Homo sapiens: one gene and its partners. The protein of the gene in region 6 interacts with the protein of the main gene of each other region in a biochemical or structural test. Each region holds a gene or a part of one and is shown on either strand. Other genes may lie near its edges. The genes, in order: CCDC88A, SH3RF1, TRIT1, CTNNB1, TRIM24, AKT1 and MEF2D.

The links.
Region 1: the proteins of AKT1 (region 6) and CCDC88A form a complex in vitro, tested with the Homo sapiens proteins (2 studies listed by BioGRID, with this or other methods).
Region 2: of the proteins of AKT1 (region 6) and SH3RF1, one has a biochemical effect on the other in vitro, tested with the Homo sapiens proteins (one study listed by BioGRID and IntAct).
Region 3: of the proteins of AKT1 (region 6) and TRIT1, one has a biochemical effect on the other in vitro, tested with the Homo sapiens proteins (one large-scale study listed by BioGRID).
Region 4: of the proteins of AKT1 (region 6) and CTNNB1, one has a biochemical effect on the other in vitro, tested with the Homo sapiens proteins (2 studies listed by BioGRID).
Region 5: of the proteins of AKT1 (region 6) and TRIM24, one has a biochemical effect on the other in vitro, tested with the Homo sapiens proteins (one study listed by BioGRID).
Region 7: of the proteins of AKT1 (region 6) and MEF2D, one has a biochemical effect on the other in vitro, tested with the Homo sapiens proteins (one large-scale study listed by BioGRID).

What each region holds. Positions count from the first base shown.
Region 1 is NC_000002.12:55,332,857-55,336,356, forward strand, and holds part of CCDC88A (girdin), read right to left. Parts: intron 2,309-3,500; coding exon 1,238-2,308; intron 1-1,237. UniProt on the Homo sapiens protein: Bifunctional modulator of guanine nucleotide-binding proteins (G proteins). Acts as a non-receptor guanine nucleotide exchange factor which binds to and activates guanine nucleotide-binding protein G(i) alpha subunits.
Region 2 is NC_000004.12:169,096,858-169,099,956, forward strand, and holds part of SH3RF1 (E3 ubiquitin-protein ligase SH3RF1), read right to left. Parts: intron 1-3,099. UniProt on the Homo sapiens protein: Has E3 ubiquitin-protein ligase activity. In the absence of an external substrate, it can catalyze self-ubiquitination. Stimulates ubiquitination of potassium channel KCNJ1, enhancing it's dynamin-dependent and clathrin-independent endocytosis.
Region 3 is NC_000001.11:39,852,505-39,856,004, forward strand, and holds part of TRIT1 (tRNA dimethylallyltransferase isoform 1 precursor), read right to left. Parts: intron 1,565-3,500; coding exon 1,466-1,564; intron 448-1,465; exon of another isoform or gene 373-447; coding exon 227-372; intron 1-226. UniProt on the Homo sapiens protein: Catalyzes the transfer of a dimethylallyl group onto the adenine at position 37 of both cytosolic and mitochondrial tRNAs, leading to the formation of N6-(dimethylallyl)adenosine (i6A37).
Region 4 is NC_000003.12:41,227,005-41,230,504, reverse strand, and holds part of CTNNB1 (catenin beta-1), read right to left. Parts: intron 3,298-3,500; coding exon 3,153-3,297; intron 1-3,152. UniProt on the Homo sapiens protein: Key downstream component of the canonical Wnt signaling pathway.
Region 5 is NC_000007.14:138,568,259-138,571,758, reverse strand, and holds part of TRIM24 (transcription intermediary factor 1-alpha), read right to left. Parts: intron 930-3,500; coding exon 756-929; intron 1-755. UniProt on the Homo sapiens protein: Transcriptional coactivator that interacts with numerous nuclear receptors and coactivators and modulates the transcription of target genes.
Region 6 is NC_000014.9:104,785,749-104,789,248, forward strand, and holds part of AKT1 (RAC-alpha serine/threonine-protein kinase), read right to left. Parts: intron 1-3,500. UniProt on the Homo sapiens protein: AKT1 is one of 3 closely related serine/threonine-protein kinases (AKT1, AKT2 and AKT3) called the AKT kinase, and which regulate many processes including metabolism, proliferation, cell survival, growth and angiogenesis.
Region 7 is NC_000001.11:156,497,976-156,502,201, forward strand, and holds the start of MEF2D (myocyte-specific enhancer factor 2D), read right to left. Parts: upstream 2,801-4,226; 5' UTR 2,511-2,800; intron 1,906-2,510; exon of another isoform or gene 1,457-1,905; intron 126-1,456; exon of another isoform or gene 1-125. UniProt on the Homo sapiens protein: Transcriptional activator which binds specifically to the MEF2 element, 5'-YTA[AT](4)TAR-3', found in numerous muscle-specific, growth factor- and stress-induced genes.

The DNA of each region.
Region 1 (3,500 bases), on a different chromosome or scaffold from region 6:
CCTAGTTGAAATAACTTTTTTCCTTTTTTTTGCTAATACTTTAAACAAAACCTTAAAAGGGAGTAGTAACTCTTTACTTGTGAATACACATTTAGGTTTGAAAACTGGGGAAAATCATATCCATTTACTTTTTAATAATGAGCCTGAACTTTAGTGCACATTTCTTCTTATAAATATATGTTGACTATAATACTTCTCTCCCACAAGATCCCTTCTCCCAGTGAAAGAGGCCCTATGATACTGATCTGAAGAACTAGAGGATGTTCTTAGAAGTTTAGGCACAAGGAACTTGTTGTTCATGTTTATAAGTCTACAGAAGAAAAAAATAAAAGGTCCCTCTCAATGCTTCTTTAGCAGAAATGCAGACTGCCCAATGTGACCTTCTGCCAGAATGCTAATATACTTTTAAATTGAACTTAAAGGGTTATCACATATTATAATGCTTAGAGATGGGAAAAAAAGAGCCAAACATATACCTTCTGACTTGCATCAACCATGTTTCACAGGACATACTGCCAATTTACTCCTGTAAGTTTCAGAATTCTTCTTGATACATAGATTCAAGCAAATACTAGTTGCTCAGTGTTGAATGGTTGAACCTGATTTGCATTCTCTGGCTTTGAGGTCAAAATTCATGGGGCTTTGGAGTCTGAAAAATCTGGATTTGAATCCAGTAATCCAACTCTGCTATTTATTAGCTGTGTGATCCTAATTTATTTAATGTTTCTGAACCTCAGTTTTCTCATCTAAAAAATGGATATAATACTTATAAAGGATTAGTTGTAAAGATTATGTGCATGTATATATGTGTGTATATATATTTGGGTGTGTGTGTATATATTATTTATGTATATACAACTTATATGAAGTTTTTAGCCCAGTACTTGGCACACAGCACTCAATAAATAGTAGCTATCATGCTTCTTTATTATACTTAGAATTTAGTGTCTTGATCAAACATTATTATATTGAAATAAAGGTTTAAAATTATAATGTAATAAGTCAGATACCACTAGGAAACTTTATTACTACAAATTCTTTTAAAAATACAATTTATAGGTATTTCTTAGTTTAACAAAGTAGGAAACTTGGAAGCTATTTCTAGTTCTAATTCCAAAATTCTACTGAACCATAAAATAAATGATGCAAATTACTGATAGATTCCAATAAAACTTAAAGAAACCTTGAGTTAAAAATATAAAAAAAAATTTGCCTTAATTTAGGTAAACATATTTACCTCACGTAGTGTAACCAACGTTTTTATATCAATAGTTGCTCTTTTCACAAGCTCCTTATTTTCTTTTTCTAGTTCTTTCAGACGGACACAAGATTCTTTATATATACCAATTTCTTTGGATAGGGTTTTGTTTTCTTTTTCCAAATTTCCAATCTTCACATTATTTTCTTCTAATGTGGTATCTTTAATTTCTGCTTGTTGTCGGAGTCTCTTATTTTCCTTCTCCAATTGTTTCTTATCCTTTTCCAGTTGAGAAGTCTCTTGCTCTAATGATTTATTTTCTTTTTCCAGCTGTTCTAGTCTTTTGCTAGATATTTTTAGTTCTTCTAGGTTTTTCTGCAATGTTTGATTTTCCATCTCTAAGTCTTGTAGTTCACTCTCTAATTGCTGGATTTTTTTATTGCTGTTCTCTAAAGTTTTTTGCAGTCTTTGATTTTCTATATCTAAACCCTGGTAGCTAACTTCTAAGCGTTCTGTTTTCTTGAAAGATGCTTTCAGGAGCTCCAAACCCTTCTTAAGTTGCTCTTTTTCACTTTCCAGTTCTTTGTTTTCTAGCTGTAGCTGAGCCATTTTCATGCTTGCACACTTCAAAGATTCTACATTCCTTCGCAGTTCTAAGTTTTCCTCATCAAGTTGGGAATTCTCTTTTTCTAGGGATTCTAACTGAAAGGTCAGATTTTTAAAGCTATCCAATGTTTTTTTTAATTTTCTATTTTCTCTTTCTAGCTCTGAATTTTCTTGTTCTAAGGCCTCAATTTTTTCACAAGTAATTTTTAAATTAGTTATTTTTTTCTGTAATAATTCATTTTCTTTTTCAAGATGATGCAATTCATTTTCAAGTTCTTCAGCTCGTTCTCCTTTTTCTTTATAATGTTCCAATTCTTTTTTAATTTGTCTTTTTTCAAATTCAATCTTGCTTAGCTTGCTACTTGTTTCTTTGATAGATTCATGAAGAATTTTGTTTTCTTTTTCAATGTCTTTCACTCTTGCTTCTGCACTTATCTGGGACCGCTGCCTTAAGGAAGACACTGTTTGATTCAGATGTTCATTTTCCTGTTCCAGTATCTTAATCTAATTTGAAAAGAAAATAATTAAAAGCTGTAATTGAGGAAAAACTAACTATGGTTTATCTCTTCCAAAAACTACCAAGAAAAGGGGAACAAAAAAAGGGTGCTAGAACATGTCTTACTTTTAATTCTGACAAGTATTTACTGAAGACCACTGTGTACACTTACTGTGAGGTCATTTACTGAAGACCACTGTGTACACTTACTGTGAGGTCATTAAAGTTCATGTTTTTAGGAAGTTCACAGTTTAAAGGAACGGTTGAGAAATGTATTTTCTATTAATCATAATGGTCTTCAGATTATTTACAGTTACATGCTTCAAATTCAAATAGGAATACAGGTAACACACACACATACCTCCTTGAGAACATAAGGTTCTACTTTTACTAAGTAACCTTTGCAATGCCTACAGTGGGTCCTCAGTAAATATGTGCTGTATTACATGTGTATATATGGGTTTGTATGTGTGTGTATTCATTCCCAAAAAGAATTCTAAGTAGGAAGCATCAAAATCACAAAAATCACTGGGTACATTTGGGAACTAATTCATCCAATTTATAGCGTGATCTAATACAATGATTCTCAAAATTTAGTGTGTTAAATAATCTCAACAAGCTTGGAAAAATGAAGATTGAAGCTTAGTCTAGAATTTTGGTTCTGTATCTCTAAAGAAACCTTCATTTTTATGGCTGGTCTGAGGACTGTACCTGGATGATATAAACAAATAATTTAACTTCTAAAAAAATTAATGCTCAAGCATGGTGGCTGGCACCTATAATCCTAGCACTTCGGGAGGCTGAGGCAGGAATATCACTTCAGCTCAGGGGTTTGAGACCAGCCTGGGGAGCATAGTGATACTTTGTCTCTACCAAAAAATAAAAAAAAAAATTAAAAAATTATCTGGGCATGGTGGTGCATGCCTGTAGTCCCAGCTAAGGTGAAAGGATTGCTTGAGCCTAGGTGTTCGAGGTTGCAGTAAGCTATGATTGTGCCACTGCACTCCAGCATGAGTGACAGAGCTGGACCCTGTCTCAAATAAATAAATATTTCAAAAATAAGTCAATTAATCTATGCAGTTCTCAGTTTCCTCAAACATAAAATGAGAATGAACATTAAAGAGCTGAAAACAAATTTGGTAATATCCAAGACAGTGTGGTTGCCACCACATTTCTCCCTCTTTGGTAGGTCAGAGGACA
Region 2 (3,099 bases), on a different chromosome or scaffold from region 6:
TAACAAAGACTGGATTTGGATATGTGTGTCAACCCACTACTGATGGCCCAGACTGGTTCATCTGAGTGACCTTAACAAGGACAGCCATCCTTGTTCCCTACCAGTGTTTGTATCTTGGCCATAAAGGAGAGTTTCATTTCATTTCCCGAGAGGGGTATCATTTCTATCCCTCCCTCTTCTCCAAGGAAACAGGAGTGAATTTATTTGATTGGTGAGACTGGGAGAAGTAGCTGAGCAGGGGGGGTTCAGTCCTCTCTGAACCGCCTGCCCACAGGCTAAGGAGGCTCTGCTCCACCTCTATGTTGTAAGCACACAGAGGTCAGGAAGGTGAGTCTGGAAGTCTGTCTCTGTGTCCCTACGTCCCTTACACTGGTGTTTGACATGGGCGAGGCAGCAATTCTGAGGAAGGTAATCTGCCCCACATACCCAGATTATCCCTTGGGAAGGTAGTCCCAAGGTCCAGACATGGAGGGGAGGGCTATGGCCACAAGTTCAATCCAACATTACCAGTAACGAGGTTGACATTCTCATCTCTATTATTCTGACATTTGGGTCTGTTTCTCCTTGGCTCAGAATTTGGAGTTAGTGGGAAAGGTGTCATTATCGCTTAAAAATGGCAGAAGCTTAGTTGGTTTAATATTATCTGTGCCCCTGCCTCCATGCTCCTTAGCCTTCCTGTGCAGAATTACAGCTTGTAGGAAACGAGAGGGAGGTGACTTGTTTTACACTCTATATCCTTTTATCTTTCTCTATTTTTCCAGCATTATTTGCATTACTCCTCTTCTCAACAAAAGGGGGGAAAAGAATGGTGGTGTATGGTAGCCAACCTCCAAGATGGCCCTAGTGATCCTTGCTTCCTGGTATTCACACTCTTGTGTAGTCTCCTCCTATGATGCACAGGATGACCTGTGTGGCCAATAAAATGTTGCAGAAATGACAGTGGGTGATTTCTGAGGCTAGATCATAAAAGGCATTATGGCTTCCACTTTACTTTCTCTTGGATCGGTCACTCAGGAAAACTGGCTGCCATGTTGTGAGGACACTCAACATCTCTATGGAGAGGAAACACATGGTAAGGCACTGAGGCCTCTTTCCAAAAGCCTAAACTAACCAGAAAAAGTGATGTGAATAAGCCATCTTAGAAGGGGATCCTCCAGCCCCAGTTGAGCATCAGCTCAGGCTGATGTCTTGACTACAATCTCAAGAAATACTCTAAGCCAGAACCAACCAGATGAGCTGTTCCATAATTATGTGACCCACAGAAAGTGTGAAATAATACATGCTTATTATTGTTTTAAGCCACTGACTTTTGGGCGTAACTGGTTACATGGCAACAGATATCTAATAAATACATCTTTCACTGTTTGATGCTAAGTAATGAGTAGTCAGTCATAAAGTTGATTTTGGGTTTCTACTTTCATTTGGTTCTCAAAGTCAGAAAATGAGTGTATAGCCTCGTGGGACCCACTCCTGACTGAAAGTGAAAAATATTATGGCTTCAAAATGATAGGCAGAACAAATTCTATACAACTGTCCCCAAACTTCTGAAACCTATTACAGCCTGCCCCTTTCACCAATTCCCATTCCATATAAACCAAAATCCATTTAAGAAAGACCACAGCAAGAGTCCCAGACTATTACACTAAAAAAACACATCTCTGCAAAAGGTAAGTGGCTGCTTGAACAACCTGAGCTCCTTTGGCACAGGGACCAAATTACTACCCAAGATCTGAAGCAAAAGCACAGCACAGAAGTTGGCTTATCATATCTGAGAAAGGTTCAGCTAATTCAAACATGAATATTCATAGACCACAAGGCTGGGGTTTGATCAAGCATGGAATGAGGAAGGAAGCATGACACAGCGGGAGAAACACTGGCCTAAGGATTGACACAGTCTTTAAGGTCAGTTAGAGCAGCTTAACTTTGGGCCAGTTATCTCAGCTCTCAGTCTGTTTCCTCATCTGTAGAATAGGACTGTAATGAGTTAAACAAGTATGATGCTCTTCGTATGGTGTCTGACAAAGAGTTCAACCTGAAAATATTAGCTCCCATTATGATCATATGGCTTAGACAAGAGTAGGCAGAGGCCTGGCACTTCAAGGAGGTGAAGAATGGGCCAGTCAGTGGCTGGACATCTCTAACTAGGAAACGAACTCAGGCCACAACTCAGGCCTCATTTCCTGAAAATGAGATTTGACAAACTTTAGATCAACACAGTTAGGGTTTTGGAATCCCTTCTTTGATATCTTTATTTTGAGACGGTCTTACTTTGTTGCCCAGGCTGGTGTGCAGTGATGCAATCACAGCTCACTGTAGCCTTGACCTCCCAGGCTTAACTGATCTTCCTACCTCAGCCTTCCGGCTGGGACTACAGGTGTGTGCCACCAAACCTGGTTAATCTTTTTACTTTTTGTAGGGATGGCATCTCACTATATTGCCCAGGCTGGTCTTGAACTCCTTGGCTCAAGCAATCTTCCAGCCTCAGCCCCAGAAAGTGCTGGGATTATAGACATAAGCCGCTATGCCCAGCTCTCTGACACCTTTAAAAGCAAGACAAATAATTTCATCATGAATTTATCTGAAAGAAGGATCCAGATGACATTTCTCAAGTCTAATGTCAACATGCTAAAAATCCATGAAAAAGCAATGATGTAGTTGCCATGTGGGGCAAGTTAAACATTTAAGGCAAAGCTTTATAATTCTGGGAAAAAATGTACAAGTGACTCAAAACATATTCAGAGTAGACTTCTCATGAGATATATTCCCTACTTGTTCTCTGTGAGCTGCCTTAAAGGTGAAATGGAATAAAAATGGTTATTGAAAAACTTGAAGTGAATTAGATTAATATATGCATTTTATAAAATGCACTAAACCAATTTTGTCAAAAAAAAATTTTGAACTAGAACTGCTGCTGGGCTAAGAACATACTCTTCCTGCCAAGTTCCCAGTGGGAGCAAATTTTCATTGCTAAGTTTTATAAACCTCTGGGGGGGCGGGTGGAATGAGAAACTATGTGCATAATGGAAACTGTGACACAGTCTTGATCGTATGAAGACTACCAGGTGCAGGAGTAATAGACTCTACTTAGAAATCTTCCAG
Region 3 (3,500 bases), on a different chromosome or scaffold from region 6:
GATATTGTACTATGCATTTAAAATGTAACAAAGTAGGCTGCAATTATTTATTGAGGGAGTTGAACTGAAGCAATAACTCAGGGCCTCCCAACCTGCTGAGCTAGAACAACACATCAATCTCCACTAACTGCTATTACCAAATCTCTCTCATCATCTGGGCAAACTGAAGAACTGACTGCTCTCTAGTTGTAAAGGAATTTGGGGTCAGCGCGCCAGGCTTTCTTACCTGGCCACTTTGCGTTTGTCATGTGGATGCAGCTTGGCAGCCATTTCTGGGTCCACCTGGCTTAGGCGTTTGTGAAGTACAAGACCATCCTCCTTTTCAAGCTCCACTTTTCGGTCAATCACTTTCTCAGTGCCCATCTCCTGGGGCTATTAAATGATGGTTTAGAAGTATATTTAATTCAACCAACACTGAGACAGTGTATGTGCCAGGCACTTTGCTAACTGTCAGGAATACAGAATAATCAGAAGATCTTGCCATATAGTGAGAGATCATAAACAGAAAATTCCAATATGCTGTGGTAAGTGCTATGAGGCCACAGCAAACAAAAAAGACAGAAGACTTACAGCATAGGGAAACACCTGGCTATTTGCTTCCCTGTCAGAAGTTCAAACAGGTACCAGGGCTAATATGTCTATTTTAGCATATCCAGGAGTCTAGTCTTCTCAGCAAGGGTGAACAAGGAGACCAGGATTGCCAGTGAATTACAGTTTACACAGTCTTACCCTACATAGTAGCACCTACGTAAATAAGGTCAGTGTTGGACATCTCCCTAATATACATACTGTGCTGCCAGCCAGGAAATACTGAATCAGGCTAATGGCTAACGTACTGGGTTTTTTTTAATATAATTTTTCTAAAGAATTATACATATTTTTTTCTTGAATCGCATCTGTTTTTTTTTTTGAGACAGGGTCTCGCTCTGTTGCCCAGGCTGGAGTACAGTGGCGCAATCTCAGCTCACTGCAACCTCCGCCTCAAGCCTCAAGTGATCCTCCCACCTCAGCCTCCCTAGTAGCTGGGATTACAGGTGCGTGCCACCATGCCTGGCTAATTTTTGTATTTTTAGTAGAGACGGGGTTTAGTAGAGATGGGGTTTCACCATGTTGGCCAGGCTGGTCTCGAACTCCTGACCTCAGGTGAGCCACCCACCTTGGCCTCCCAAAGTGCTGGGATTACAGGTGTGAGCCACCACGCCTGGCCTAATGAACTGTTAATTTATATGGAGATGCTAATTAATCCACACAGCAACATTTTTCCCACACAGAGCCCCTTCCCATAGACCAGCCTGGAGGAACACACTTCACACATGGAGGTGGCATTTGCTTGAGAATATTAAGTAGGAAAATTATAGTTGCTGGGTATAAGAAATAGGCAAGAGTCAACCTTTCTCCCACTGAAATTAGACAGCAAGAAAGAGCAATCCATTTCCTCAGTGAGTTACGAGTGAACTAAACTTACCTTGGTATTGACAAGAACTTTCCAGAGCAGAGATTCAATGTAATAATTGGTTCCTCCCACAACAATAGGAATTTTGTCTCGGGCAAATATATCTTCAATGTGAACATTAAGAAAGATATCACGATATCAAGAGAATCCTGACTCACTTTGGAAGGACACCATTAGCAAGAAACCACATTCATTTATCTGCAGAGCAGAGGAGAAAGGGTGGGAACCAAAATGCGTTGATACCAGCCCTCAGTGTTTCCAACAAATTTCCAGAATCATGTCCAATCAGTTCTGGAGGGACTTGCAGAAACCAGAGACAAATGCATAGTGGTAATTCCTTCCAGTTCTAGAACTTTCTAGGTCTTGCTGCTAAAAGTCAAAGTTTTATTAGTATTCCAAATCAGTTCAATAAGCACAAGCCCAAGGACTCTCACAGAACCAAGTGTCAGCTGCTCAGGAGGCCATCAAGGTGACATCCATTGCATGACTTTGCCTTCTAAGGCAAAACACAAGCTGGTTTCTCTAAGGTTCTTAGACTTAGTCAGTCTCTACCATCATGGAGAGACTATCACATTTTGCCACTTGAGGCTTGACCAAATTAAGTGAGATGCACAGGTTCTGAAGATAAATAGACTTCAATTTCCAGGTTCAGCTCTTGGACAATTACTCAGCCTGTCTGAGTTTCAGTTTTCTCACCTGTAAAAATCCCCATGAGCCTTAAATGTGACAATTCATAGAAATCCCCTATCACAATGCCTAAAAAATAGTAAGCACTCAATTTACTATAGCCACTATTGTTTTTTCATCTCTGCTACTTTAAATTTTTCTCTTTAGAATCTCCGTTGAACAGATAATTATCTGCTTTAAGGCGGCCTTTGCTCCTGAGAATAATTTTTTTTTTTGAGACAGGGTCTCACTCTGTCACCAAGACTGGAGTGTAGTGGCGCGAAAACAGTTCACTGCAGCCTCAACCTCCCAGGGCTCGAGTCATCCTCCCACCTCAGCTCCCGCCACCAAGTAGCTGGGACTACAAGCACATGCCACCACATCTGGCTAATTTTTGTATTTTTTGTAGAGGTAAGGTTTCACGATGTTACTTGCCCAGGCTGATCTTGAACTCCTGAGCTCAAGCAATCCATCCACTGCAGCATCCCAAAGTGCTGAGGTTACAGGCGATAGCCATCGTGCCTGGCCGAAAATAACTTTTTTTAAAAGACTTTCAATATCCAGGTAAATAATCATTTACACATTTCTCCTTGCCAGCCAATCTGCAGGCATAGAGACAGACCACCTCTTTTCTACTAGAATCCCACTAACCCTTAAGCGGCTAAGGCAGGGTGGGAAGAAAGATGTTACCAATCAAGGATCATAAAGAAAAAACACTGTTTGCTTTAAAAAGAGAAAACAAATTCTCTATTTCCCCCTTTAAATTAAGTATAGGGAGCATACAATTTCCACAGTAAGATAAAATGTCAATTATACACAAGTTAAATATCCCTTATCCAAAATACTTGGGACCAAGGAAATGTTTCAGATTTTGAATTATTTGCATTATACTTACTGGTTGAGCATCCCAAACCTGAAAATCTGAAAACTGAAATGCTCCAATGAGCATTTCCTTTGAGCATCATCTCAGCACTCCAAAAGTTTCAGATTTTGGAGTATTTTGGATTTTAGATTTTCAGATGTTCAACCTGTAGTATGATTAACAAAGGGAAAGTGAGCAAAGAAATGAAAAGGGGAAGGGAAAAATGTTAAGATTCCAGAAGAGGAGAGAGTGGAAAGAGGAAAGAAGATGGGATAGGACATACTTCACGGGAAAAGGTTTAACTTATTTGTGCAAGCCATGAAATGACTGTGATATTGAGCAAACACCCTTCTACTCTTTGGGCCTCAGTATCTAGTACCTTCACCTGTCGAATCAAGAAGGCTGATTGGGGCCAGGCGTGGTGGCTCACACTTGTAATTCCAGCACTTTGGGAGGCCGAGGCAGTAGGACCACTTGAGCCCAGGGGTTCAAGACCAGCTTGTCAACATAGCAAAATCC
Region 4 (3,500 bases), on a different chromosome or scaffold from region 6:
TACTATGTGCCTATTCCATTTCTTAAAATACATTAGATGCTATTTTCAGAATAAACAAATGAACATAAGAATAACCTGGAAGAACTTAAAGATTCCTAAGCTTCCAGTCCCATACATGTCCAGCTATCTACAGACCTCCCTGTCACTTCAAATAAAACACTATGAGATCTTGATATAAAAATTAACACTCCAGGGATTCTGATTAAATAAATCTCAAAATCTGTATTTTTAGCCTACATTACAGGTTACTGCTGGAACAGCTGACAGAATTTACATCCCATCCCCTCATTCTATATGAACTCAGCCACATTTGTCTATCCCCAAGACTATGGTTCCTCTGCCAGTAGTTACCTGGAGCAATCATAATGTCTTTCTCTCTCATAAATTCCCAAGTAAAATTACTCTCAATAAGTGAGAAAAGTAAGTGTTGCCAGCCCTATACTTTATTCCCAACATTTTCTTCCATTAAATGCCTTTATATTTTTCCTTCTTTCAATACTGATTTGAAGCTTGCTTTGAAATTCTGAGTAAATGTTGTTAGGTGGGTTACTGAAAGGAGAAAAAATGCTTGGTAGCTAAAAAGTAACTGTTTTCATGACACACACACACACACACACACACACACACAGAACCCAAGAGGCCCTAGTACAAACCATCTATTCTTTTCCCCAATTGCCAACATACACAATATACAAAGTACCACATATAAGTTGCCTTCTTAAAAATACTCAGAATAGAAAAAAATTGTTTCTCATACTTAGACGACATCTATTCACTGAGAATACAGAATATCAGGGCAAAACACTGCTCATAATCAGGCAAGAGAAAGAAAATGCATCCAAATAGGAAGTCTGTTTGCAAACAATATGATTCTATACCTAGAAAACCCCATAATCTCTGCCCAAAAGCTCCTTGATCCAATAAACTTCAGCAAAGTTTCAGGATATAAAAATCAATGTACAAAAGTCAGAAGCATTTCTAGACACCAACAACATCCAAGCTGCAAGCCAAATCAAGAATGCAATCCCATTTACCAAAGCCACAAAAAGAATAAAATACCTAGGAATACAACTAACCAGGGAGGTGAAAGATCTCTACAATGAGAATTACAAAAAACACTGCTCAAAGAAATCAGAGATGACACCAACAAATGAAAAAACATTCTATTTCATGGCAGGAAGAATCAATATTGTTAAAATGGCCATACAGCCCAAAGCAATTCACAGATTCAATGCTATTCCTACCAAACTACCAATGGCATTCTTCACATAATTAAAAAAAAACTATTTAAAAATTCATATGAACCCAAAAAAGAGCCTGAATAGCCAAGGCAATCCTAAGCAAAAAGAACAAAACTGGAGGAATCACTTTACCCAACTTCAAGCTATACTGTTAATACAAGGTTACAATCACAGCATGGTACTGGTATACAAACAGACACAGAGACCAATGGAACAGAAAAGAAAGCCCAGAAGTTAGGCCGCACACCTAACAAGTAAACAAAAACAAGCAATGGGGAAAGGACTCCCTATTCAATAAATGGTGCTGGGATAACTGGCTAGCCACATCCAAGATTGAAACTGCACCCCATCCTTACATGATGTACAAAAATCAACTCAGAATGGATTAAAGACTTAAATATAAAACTTAAAACTGTAAAAACTCTGCAAGATAACCTAGGAAATACCATTCTGGACATAAGACCTGGCAAAGATTTCATGACGAAGATGCCAAGAGAAGTTGCAACAAAAACAAAAACTGACAAATGGGACAGTATAAAGAGCTTCTGCGCAGCAAAAGAAATCAACAGAGTAAACAGACAACCTACAGAATGGGAGAAAGTACTGGCATGGGAGAAAGTACTGGCAAACTATGCATCTGACAAAGGTCTAATATCCAGAGTTTACAATAAACTTAAATTAACAAGCAAAAAAGAACAACCCCATTAAAAAGTGGGCAAAGGACATGAACAGACACTTTTCAAAAGAAGACATACAAGTGGCCAAGAAACATATGAAGAAAAGCTCGACATCACTGATCATTAGAGAAATGCAAATCAAAACCACAATGAGATACCGTCTCACACCAGTTAGAATGGCTACTAATAAAAAGTCAAAAAATGACAGATGCTGGTGAGGTTGCTGAGAAAAGAGAATGCTTATACACTGCTGGTGGGAAAGTAAATTAGTTCAGCCATTGTGGAAAGCAATTTGGTGATTTCTCAAAAAACCTGACAGAATTACCATTCAATCCAGCAATCCTATTATTAGGTATATGCCCAAAGAAAAAGAAATCTTTTTACCATAAAGACACATGCATGCATATGTTCACTGCAGCATTATTCACAATAGCAAAGATATGGAATTAACCTAAATGCCCATCAATGGTAGACTAGATAAAGAAAATGTGGTACATATATACTATGGAATACTAAGCAGCCATAAAAAAATACCAAGATGTCTTCCTCAGCAACATGGATGGAGCTGGAGGCCATTATCCTAAGCAAACTAACATAGGAATAGAAAACCAAATACCACATGTTCTCACTTATAAGTGGGAGGTAAACACTGAGTACACACGGGCACAAAGAAGGGAACAACAGACACTGGGGCCTACTTACGGGTGGGAGGTAAAGAACTGAAAAACTACCTATTGGGTACAATACTTACTGCCTGGGTGACAAAATAATCTGCACACGAAACCCCTGTGACATGCAATTTACCTATATAACAAGCCTGCACATTACCCGGAACCTAAAAGTTAAAACAAAACAAAAACTGCTCATGAGCATCTACTAATAAAGCAATCACTTTACATAAAACTGTACTATATTAGAATTTGTCTTTTCTCCTATAAATTCACAGCTCTGTTAGCAAATCTTAGGTTTACTCAAAACTGAAATTACAAACAAATTTTATTAAGCAAAACATATGCCATCATTTTTGATGGATAATAAGAACTCTACCTAAACTAGCCTTAAATATTTAGCTACAATCCAGATGACAGGTACTCTGAATGTAAATCTTGGCTGCAAACTGAATAGGACCATTTATTTTCAGTAGTTAAAGTTCTACCACCTTTTCCTAAGAAAAGTAATCTAATTAGAACTGCAGATGCTATACACAAGACTCAGAATAGATACATATACTTACCAGCTTCTACAATAGCCGGCTTATTACTAGAGCAGACAGATAGCACCTTCAGCACTCTGCTTGTGGTCCACAGTAGTTTTTCGTAAGTATAGGTCCTCATTATATTTACTAAAGCTTGGGGTCCACCACTAGCCAGTATGATGAGCTAGAAAGATATATATATATATCTTGTTAGTCAAGGAATCTTGATCACATGTCTGAGAAGAGCCATATTACCAACCTATTTTATTATACAAGAATTTCAGCCAGCTTGCCATTGGACCTAAATGTATTCCTGGACCCCATCACTCAGACCCCCATACTGGGGCCCTATCCAACTTGTCCTTTTAAAGCATTCCACTCAAATTC
Region 5 (3,500 bases), on a different chromosome or scaffold from region 6:
CCATCTCTATTAAAAATAAAAATCATTTAAAAATATAATAAATAACAAAAAGTCATACTGACAAAGAGTTTGGAGAGTGAGTTAATTTACATGTAGTATAAACCAGAGGTAATTTTGCACTTGTCAGTATGATCTAACAGGATTTCTATTATTAAACTTGTCTTCATCTCTTCTGATGTCCAGCCATTCAACGTCCCAGCATATCTTTCCATGTCCTTACTTTTCTCCTTTCCCAGCTTAGATTCCATGATCCATCACCATAATCACTCATTTACAAACACCTTTAACTCCGGTGGCTTGAAAGACATTAGATTATGTGTCCAATGTTCATAATCTTTTTATTTTTACTACTGTTGTAATATTCTAAAGGATTAAAATTAACTTGTAAAAACAAACAACCTATAATCCAACAAATTCATGCCTTCTACCAGATCCAAATTCACTAACAATTTTCTTTCTTTGTTGAGACAGGGTCTCGCTCTGTTAGGCTAGAGTGCAGTGGCATGATCTCAGCTCACCACAGCCTCCGCCTCCCAAGTAGCTGGGATTACAGGCGTGTGCTATCATGCCTGGTTAATTTTTGTATTTTTTGGTAGAGACGGGGTTTCACCATGTTGGCCAGGCTAGTCTCGAACTCCTGACCTCAAGTAATCTGTCTGCCTCAGCCTCCCAAAGTGCTGGGATTACAGGAGTGAGCCACTGCACCCGGCCAACAGTTTTCAACAGAGGCTAGTATAAATTTTGTGTCTACTTACATCCGGAAGAGAGGGAAGATTATAAGACCCTCCCACTGGTGAGCTCAAATCGATCATAGGTGAACCAAAAGCCTTTCCATCATATCCTGCTGCACTAGTAATCGTGGGGCTGGAAGGAGTAGAGGATGTGCTGTTGGTAGTTGATGGGGTTCCCTGTCCACTGCTGATCTGCCACTACAGTAACAAGAAGAGAAGAACAAAGGCTATCAACAAGCTTATAAAATACAACATCTATGTAATCACTCACACAAAATGAAGTAGAAGAGTTCAACTGTAATTTACATGGAAGGAGAATGGGACAGCAAAAGACTGCACAAGTATATATAATTTTCATTAATCTTGTCAAAAAAAAAAAAAAACCAAAACAGTAAAAAGCACTGATTTTTACTGGAAGACAACAGTTAGTATATACCAGAAAATCACAGTACCCAATCTTGGCAGGTTTATACATATTGGAAAAAAAATGTAAATATATACATAGCAACTTCAAGGTAAAGATGGAGGGTTGAAAACATACATTTCTTCTATCCCTATCTGAAATACTTGAAAATACTAAGCTACAGACTGGTACTTTCAGGATTTTATATTCCTCTTCTCATATATGAACAGATAATTAGGCCTCGATAAATATCTGAGGAAAGTACTATCATTCCTGCTGAGATAAACACATTAAGATGATGATAGGCATGCTGAAGTATATAGAGGTGAAGCATGCTGCTGTCTGGAATTTACTCAAAACCTATTGAAAAACATGATGGGCTGGGCATGGTGGCTCATGCCTGTAATCGCAGCACTTTGGGAGCCCAAGGTGGGTGGATAACTTGAGGTCAAGAGTTCAAGACCACCCTGGCCAACATGGTGAAACTCCATCTCTACTAAAACACAAAAATTAACCGGGCGTGGTGGTGGGCACCTGTAATCCCAGCTACTTGGGAGGCTGTGGCAGGAGAATCACTGGAACCCAGGAGGCAGAGGTTGCAGTGAGCCAAGATTGCACCAGTGCACTCCAGCCTGGGCTACAGAGAGAGAGATTCTGCCTCAAAAAAAAAAAAAAAAAGGATGACTTGATGAATGGACAAAGGAATAGATAAACATGTAATAAGGCAAGTAGAACAAAATGTTCCCTATATAATTCTTTCAATTTTTATTATGTTTGAAAATTTTCATGCTGGAAGAAGGAAAGTAACTAAGTGTACTGCAAGATGCCGTATTTTCCAAACATGGTCATTCACAAATGAACAGCACTATATAAAATGTCTGAAACATTCCAATTTTGAAAAACCTAATTTATATATTCCATTGTAGAAACTACATACAGAAACATATGAAGTTGGACATGAATGTCTTCTTTACCACCTACTCCTCCCTCATATTCCCCACCTCTATGCCCCCTTTCCTCCTCCTCTACCAAGAACAATCAGTTGGTGGATCGTTTCAGGTTTTTTTCTATGTACATGATGAGGCTGGAGGAAAACACACATACAAATGAGATAACACCTCACAAAAATTCTATAACATGCTTTTCCTCACGTACTCAGAAAATCATATCTAGATTACTGCATTTTCTTAATATCTGAAAAGTATTCCACTGTATGAGTATACTCTAATTTGTTAAACTCATCTACTACTTAAAAGCAATTTCCCAGTAGATTTTTTCCTGGCTTGTTCCTTTACTTATTCATTCATGTTTACATTTTTGGTCAACAACCATTTTAAAAAAACATGCTTAGAGTATCTACTCATTAAAATACAATAAATAGGGAAGAGGTAAACATTTGAATACTGAGCATGTGCTAGGTGCTTGTATATACATTAGAATAAACTCTCAACATAACTCTGCAAGATACGCATTTTATAGCTGAGGCAAGGGAGATGCGAAAAGACTACGTAAGTGCCACAAAATTATTAGGAAAATAAGTAGAATTTAAGGCCAAACTGAAGCTTGGGTCCTTTTTACTTTCCTTCTAATGATGAAATAATAGGTATGAATTTTATTTTAAATAATTAAAATATTGTTTAAGAGAATTTGGTGATGATATAGCAAAGGCAAATTGATTATACGAAGATATGTATAGACACAGAGTGTACATACTTTTAGAATAAAATATTAAAATGATTTTATTAAAATGGATGTTATAGAATTATGAAAATTGCATCATCTTTATTTTGGTCTTGGAGAAACCAAAATCAGTCTACAATCAGCTAGACAGGCTGTTGTCATAGGAGCTTTGAGAAGAAAAAACACTGTGATAACTTTAAGATAATGTAAAACACAGAAAATATTTTTACCTGAAGACACTAAGTATATAAATAATACAGCCGGGTATGGTGGCCCACACCTGTAATCCCAGCACTTTGGGAGGCTGAGGCGGGCATATCACTTGAGGCCAGGAGTTCGAGACTAGCCTGGCCAACATGGTGAAACCCTGTCTCTACTAAAAATACAAAAATTAGCCAGGCATGGTAGTGGGCGCCTGTAATCCCAGCTACTCTGGAGGCTGAGGCAGGAAAATTGCTTGAACCCGGAAGGCAGAGGTTGCAGTGAGCTGAGATCATGCCACTGTACTCTAGCCTGAGTGACAGAGAGAGACTTTAAAAAAAAAAAAAAAAAAAAAAAAAAAAAAGGAGGCCAGGTACGGTGGCTTACGAGTTTAGGAGATTGAGACCATCCTGGCTAACACGGTGAAACCCAGTCTCTACTAAAAATACAAAAAAAATTAGCTGGGCGTGGTGGCGAGTACCTGT
Region 6 (3,500 bases):
TGGAGCAGGCCTCAGCCCGACACACACACCCCGGGAGGAACATGGTGCGGGCAGGCGGCACCACCATGACCCCGTCCACCTCGCTGAGGCACAGCCGGAGGCGCTGGGGCCTCTCTTCCTGCCACTCCAGGGAAGCACCTGGGTCTCAGCTTTCCATTCTCCTGGGGCTCTACTGGGTGGGGTACTGGGCCTCCCTGGTGCTGCCCCTGACAGACCACCTGGGCCTGGATGTCCTCCCCCACAGGCACTGCCCGTCACCCACCCCTCGGGCCGGCAAAGGCACCCCACCTGCCACACACCCATCCATCGCAGAGCCCAGCACATCCCAAGACCCTGTCCCTGTCCCTGTCCCCCACCTCATTTTTGGTCTGCCCCAAACAAGCCCCACCCATGTCATGGCCCACCCTGCCTACTCAGGACCCCTGCAGATGAGGCTGCAGCCCCTCCCTGGCGCCTCCTACTCTGCCCCCGCCCACTCTCCCCATAACTTGCAGCAGGCTTTGCCAAGTGCCCTCCACCCAGTGGGTTCCCAGGGCCCTCACCCTCGCTCCCTGCGTGGGAGGAAGCTGGGCATGGGGACAGCACACAGTGCCTGCTGCGAGGGAGGGCTGGCCACAGTGTCCCACGTGTAGACACTGCCCTCGGGAAAGGAAGTGGGCACGGGCACAGGCTCCTTCCGGGGCTCGGCCGGGGGCACGCAGCCATGCCCACAGCCCCTCCCTCCTCCCGTCTCTCTTGGGCAGGGCCCCTGGCGGTTGAAGGGCTCCAGTGCTGGCCTCTCAATCCCTGACACCCCAGGAAAAGTGCCCTGCATTGCTGGGGGAACTGGAACCAGGCAGTAGGGACCTCGTCCTCCACACCGACCATGGGAAGCACCCGCCACAGAGGGGCCTTCCATCTCCCCACCATCTTGTTTCTGCCCCAACTTGGAGCCACGCCTGGGGCAGGAGGGCCCCCAGAGCACGGCCAGCTGTGGAGGGTGCTCCTTCTGATCCCCCGGCCTGCTGGGACATTGTGGCCCTGACCCCCGTGGCCTCACCCCACACCTCACCAAGCTTGTGCAGCTCAGCGTCTCCGCGCCCTACACCTGGCTGCTGTGCCCCTGGCCCCAGTCTGTGGGGAGGCCAGCCAGACCCTGGCCAGCCGAAGGGCCTCTCTGCATTCTCCAGGCCCAGGGAGCAGCCACCTCCCCGCCAGGCCTGCCCAGGGGGTGTCTCCACCCCTGAGCTGGACAACCAGCTGAGGGCCTGGGCAGGTGGGCCCGCCAGGTTACAGGGTATGGGTGGGGTCTGCAGTCACCGGGCCCGCCTGGGGGGTGTGTGAGCCCAAACACAGCGCCCCAAGGATCCCACCCCAAAGCCCGCAACATTGGCAGCAGAGTCACCCATGAACTCCCAACCCCCTCAATTCCAACGTTTCTGAAATCCAAACCTATCATTCCTTAAGGTTCAAGGAAAACACACCTAAAGGCGGCATGGCAGGGAAGGGAACTCCCGTTGGAGATGAGGAAGTAAGGGGCCTAGGGTTCGCCTAACAGCCCCATCCTGGCCTGGAGCCCCAGGGCCCTCTGCCAACCTGCCCGGGGCCCCAGCGCTGGGCTGGGGGAACCTTCTCCTGAGGCCATGGGACTAGGCACAATGGTCCAAGCAGACAGAAGCAGCAGGCAGCTGCCCACCCAGGGTGGCCTGGGGAGCAGGCCCAGAGCCACAGCCACAGCCACCAGTCTCAGCTATGGGAGGGCCCGAGGGCAGGGTGCTGGCCCCAAGCCGGGCCGGGTGTGCCCAGGCAGAGGGGACGCCAGCGGGGGCCGCGCCAGTTCCCTCCGCTCAGCCTCGTGCAGGACTTCTAGGAACCCGGCCTGATGCAACCCGGCCAGGCTTCTCCTGAGAGTGGAAGGTGTACGGGGGTCTAGGCCCCAGCACAGGAATCATTCCACCCACATTCTGTCCACTCTCCTGGGCCTCAGTTTCCCTTCCCGGAGTCCAGCCCCCCACAGGGCATCCCTGCCCAGAGAGGGCCAGTGACCAAGAAACACACAGGAAGAAGAGCTGTCCACTCAGGAGCCACCAGGCGTGGGGGCTAAGGTCCAGGGCTGGGGCCAGCAGTGACCCCTCACCCCCACTCAAGGCCACCTCGGCTTCCTCTTTTGTTGTTTTTGAAGTGAGAACTCAACAAGCTCCCAAAACAGGAACCTCCCTGATGCTGGCGGCCTCCACCACAGCCATGCCATGACCTCCACCAGCCTGTGCCTCCTGCCCCTCTCCCGGGTAGGCCCAGGGCTGTTGGGACCCCCACTCTCTGCCCAGCCCTCCCACCAGGAGCCAGCACACTTGCCTCCCCATCTCTGTCCCTGGCCTGCCCACGGGGGCCGTTCCAGACCCTCAACGCTCCCCCAGGGGAGGCAGAGCTTGGCACTAACCAGCCCAGGGCCCGCGGGTCTCACACTGAAGCCACCTAGACGCAGCCTGGGGTTGACCCTCACCTGACAGCCTGGGAAAAACTGAGGCCCAGGAGGCACAGGCAGCCCTGGCCTGGAGCCCAAAGGTTCCCACAGGCTGAGGGGAGAGTCTGCGGGCTCCCTCCCTCAGGGTCCTGCTGGGCCCCTCATCCTGGCGGGGTAATGAGCAGCCTCCATCTGCACACAAACAATTAGCCCTGCGGGGCCCTCCGCAGCAGCTGCTCTCTGGAGTGGGCTCAGAGTCCCCCACAGACCTCTTCTCAAGGGTGTTTACTCAGCAAAGCCAAGGCCTCCTCCAGGATGAAGGGGAGTGGCCTGTACCCTCTGAGGTCCCCCACCTCACGCAGGGACCCCAGGACCAGCTGGATGGCTGAGCAGCAGCTGGGGATGCAGTGAGGTTCTATGTCGCTCACCAAAGCGAAGTAACACACTGGGGTAGGAACCACTCTCTCCCTGCCTCAGTGCCCCCCCGCAGGGACAGCCAGTGCCAGGACTTCAAGGCGGGGAGAGGGGGTGGGAAGGAGGCCCAGCCTAGGCACCTGCTTGGGGTCAGAGACCAGCCTCCATACTCCCCACCGGGACGCCTGGGGCTAACTCAGCAGGAGTGGTGAGGGGGCTGCCCTGAGGCCTGGACTGGGGGGTCTATGCCAGGCATGGGCCCGGGGTAGGGCATGGCAAGGACTCAGATGTCCGGAGACTGGACCCTCCGTGAGCCGCATGGACACACGGTCCCGTGTCACCCGGGCCCGGCCAGGCACCCAGATCCGTGGCTTGGACACGCTGCCCACACACTCAGGAGCGTCTGCCGCGTAACCCACGCGCCCCAGGCAGCTTCCCTCGACCCCCGCCCACTCGGCCTTGGCCTGCTGGGTCACAGCCTGCCGAAGGCAGCCAGGCCTGCAGCTCTTCCCCGGCCCCTCTCGGACAGCGACCAGCCTGAGGGAGTCCAGGTGGTGCCCCTGCGGCCGGCACCCACTCCTGGCCTAGGCCCAGCCCTTTCTCGAGAGCCCAGAGCACCTCATCCTGGGTCCCAGCATCCCGG
Region 7 (4,226 bases), on a different chromosome or scaffold from region 6:
CAAGGCCTCCTCGGGGGCCAAGGCACCTCCCACTCCAAGCTTCCTTACTACTGCTCCTTTAGCTCCCCCCAACCTGAAGAGTCTCCCTCTGGCTTCTCTTCCCTATCACATCTCCCAGGAAAGATTAAAAAAAAAAAAAAAAAAAAAAAAAACCCTGCTACAGAGAGATTATATAACAGCAGCCAGAAAGACTATCATATCTCCCAGCCTATGAGAAGAACCAGGAGCCAAGGGGGCAGAGCCAGGATGCCCAGGCCCTCCAGCCCAGGGGCACCAAGCACAGAGTGGGGTGGACACGGACAGCACCTGCCACCCCTCCAAGTCCTCCACCAATCTTTCAGGCATTGAGTACAGCAGACAGAAGCTCTAGCCAATTCCCCATGCCCATCCCCCAACACAAGGATCATGAGGCTCTCTGGGTCCTGCTTCTTCCCTTGGACTGGGGCTTCCATGAACACGGACTGTATGTCTCCCTTCCCAGAATCCCTCCCTACTATGAAGTTGTGCCTAAAAGAGTGGAAAGACGAAAGCTCTGACACAGATTTGCTGTGTGATCTCAGGTAAAAAACTCAACCTTTTGGGTCCCTACAGGGGTGAGTAAAAGCTCCTCCCTTCCTCCCTTCCCCCCTCCCCCCCTTCCCCCCAGAGAGACCAGAGACCTCTCCCTTTACAAATGTACATGCACACACATACATATACACACATATGCAAACATACAGGGTGTGTTGGCGGGGGCAGGGGAGTTACAACAAAGAGAATATAATCACTGAGACCCAAAGGTCCAAATGCCTATGCTGGGGCAAGTGGGGAAGGAGCTCCATATAAGCTCCAGTGTCCCCCAATCACCCCGTATAAAGAGGTCCTCAGCCACTCCCACAATAGTCCTACCCCACCCCCATCTCCTGCCCAACACACTGGGAAACCACAGGAAGGAAATTCATTCCCAGGCAGGGCCGTGGGAGCTGGGACAGCCAGACTAAGTCCTGGGGCGGGTGTGACCCCGTGGCCACAAGCGGGTGGACATCTGTGAACACTGACATGTGCCTTTTCAATGCTCTCCTCAGCTACTGAGACCTTCCTGTTGGGGTTGGGAGAGGAGTGGGAGGTGGACAGCTCCCAAACGCCAAAACACCCAATCTCAGGCTGACCTGCGCTCCCCTCCTATCTCCAGGCCAGAGCAGCCCAAGGTCACCGCCCCAGACGGCAAACTTCCCATAGTCTAGGCTGGACCCTGAATTGCTGCGGAGACCCACTGAAGGGATAGGAGGAGGAGTGGATAAGGGCCACCTCCACCCCAAAGCAAAGAAACCAGGACTCTGAGGAAAACTCAAATGGGGGTTGGGCACAGCAAAGAGGGACACAGGATCCCCCCCAACCCGCTATACCCTCCCCCAACCCATCAACAATGCACCAAGCAATGGGAGGCAGAGGGAGGCTCCCATTCAGAAGGGCAAACCTGGGATAACCCGGTCGGTGGCTTCTAGAGTGCCTTCCTTTCAGGAGGAGTCCTCGGAAGGCTGCTGAGAGGACAGCGTGATTCACTAGGGGGAGGGGGCCCCTTTCCCCATCCCCCTAAGACCCGAACCTGGTAGGAGAGAAGCTGGCATTGGAGTGGGGGACTAAAAGCATTTTGGTCTCCTTGGCCCATCCTCCCAAAAGCCCCCCCAAACTCCCTAAACCCCCGCTCGCAGCCCAGCTCCGCCTGCCATAGGTGGAAAGGACTAGAGAACTCTTGCCCAGATGTTGAACAGCTGCAAACTTCTGGCCAGGGAGTTCTCCAGTTGGGGTTACTGACAAACCACATCAGGGGTCTCGGAAGCGGGGCTAGGAGGTCTCAAGGAAGGGTCCTGCGTGCCCACCTCGTGGCGACTCCGCGTCCCAACTCCACAGGCACCCGGCAAACACGGGCCCCGGAGACACACACACTCACACACCCCAACCCACTACCCCGGTGTCATCTGAACAACATCCCCCCTCCCTCCCCCGCTTCCCAAACAGCTGCGGCTCCCCCCGCCTCCACCCTCCCGCCGCCCTCCCAGGCCCCCTTCTGCACCATTTCGGGCCAAGGAGGAGGGAACAGGCGGCGAGAGGAGGGAGAGGGAGGGAGGGCCGGCTGTTAAAATGTCAGTCGCTCCCGACTGTCACCGGAGACCCCCTCGGAGGATGGCGCCCCGTCCCAGACCGCTCGGAGGCCGTCGTAAACCCCCTACACGAACAGGCGGGCGCGCCCCCAATCCGCCCGTCCCCACCCCGTACTCCCAACACCCAAGGGAATTGCAGCCCACTCCACTTGTCCCCCACGACAGACTCCCTGACACAAACAGTCCCCTAGGTAATCCCCGCCAACGCCACACGAAAACACGGCCCGCTTCGCGAGTTCCTCCCGGCCCGGGGGCTGCCCCATCCCACCCCTCAGGGGGACGGTCTAGACCACCCTCCACCCCAACCCCTGGACCGGGTGGGGGAGGGGGCCTCTTAAAGTGGCAGGCGCATTATTTTTCTCTACTCACCAGCCCGGCTGGGGGAACGGTGTTGTCACGGCAAAGAGCGGGTAGCCCTCGCCCCTGGTCCGGGGGATCTTCAACACCGGGAAGCCGCAGCTCCGGGCGGGGAGAATAATAAATGAGGCCGGCGTCCGCGCGGGCCCTGGGCGGCGCCGTGAGGCCTGGGCCCCCGTCGTGGGCGCGGGGGCCAGCAGGCGGGCGGCAGGCAAGCGGGGAACCGGGGCCGAGCGCCTGAGCCGCCTCGGCTGTTGTTGATATTTTGCTTCCTTCCTCCTTTCGGGCTCCAAAGGTAACTCCTCCAGCCCCCGGGAGTCGAGGCCGACGTAGGCACAGCTCAGCCTAGCTTGAGGGGTGGGGGGAAAGGGGTGACGGACAGGCGTGGGGGCCAATGGGAGGCACCTGTGGGGGTGGCGGGGCGGAGCCGGGGCTGGGGCGGTCCCGAGGACGCGGCCCCGCCCCTCGCTTCCCCAGGGCTGGCCGGGCCAGGCCGGGTCGGCCCCCACCCCACCGCCCTCCCAAGCTAGGCTGCGGCGCTGGGAGCGGCGGATCCCTCCGCCTGCCGGGAGGGAGGGAGGAAGGGACGAAGCGAGGCAAAGTAGGGAGGCGAGACCCAGAGGCCTTTAAAGGGATCGGTCCGCTCCCACGGTGCCCCTCGGAGCACGCCGGCCGCCCGCCCGCCCGCCTGGCGCTGCTGCCACCGCGTGCTCCAGGAGGTCCTTTCCGGGGAGGCCGTGCGAGCTGCACGCACACTCTCAACACGCGCCACCTCGGCACCTCCTCGCGGCCCCGGGCCCCAGGAGAGTTGGGAGGTGGGAGTCTAAGTAGATAAATTAAGGGGAGACTGGAAGTGGTGAAAAGCTCCCATCTCCCCCACTTGGTGTGTGACAAAGCCCCACTCACGGGCGACATTCTTGGGGTTGGGGGGTGTTACCTAGGGAGCTCAGTTGCTCCCTCTACCTGTGACAGGCCCCCTCCGGTCCCAGGGCCCGGCTCGGCAGACGCCCAGCAATTTAAAGCGACAGCTCATAGTTCTTGGGTGACCTAATCTCCAGTGCTTGCGGGGCCCCACAGCACTTACTGCCGAGGGGGCAATTTAAAGGGGCGGGACCCTAATTCCTCCCCACCTCCCGCCGCACAGTAAACACCCAGAAATGTCTTATTAAAGAAGCAGTAGTAGCTCTTTAAAATTTTTTATTTTTATATTCCTGGTTGCTCCAGGGTGTGGTGAATATTTACGTGCCCTACAACAGGAGTGTGGGTGCCATGCCTACTGGACAACTGACCCGTCAGGCTTCAGCATCCCTGTTACTTCCAAGTCCTGCTGCTTTCTCCCAAGAGCGTAAGGAAATGATGGCATCTGGCTTAGATCTCAAAGAACCTTGCAGAACAGAAGGGCACTCACTCAGTTCTTCACACACCCCGAATTTTTTTTTTTTTTTTTTTGAGACGGAGTCTTTCTTCGTCGCCCAGGCTGGAGTGCAGTGGCGCGATCTTGGCTCACTGCAACTTCCGCCTCCCAGGTTCAAGCGATTCTCCTGCCTCGCCTCCCCTCCCGCCTCCCGAATAGCTGGGACGACAGGCGCACGCCCCCACGCCCGGCTAATTTTTTGTGTTTTAGTGGAGATGGGATTTCACCGTGTTACCCAGGCTGGTCTCGAACTCCTGAGCTCAAGCAATCCGCCCGCCTCGGCCTTCCAAAGTGCTAGGATTACAGGCGTGAGC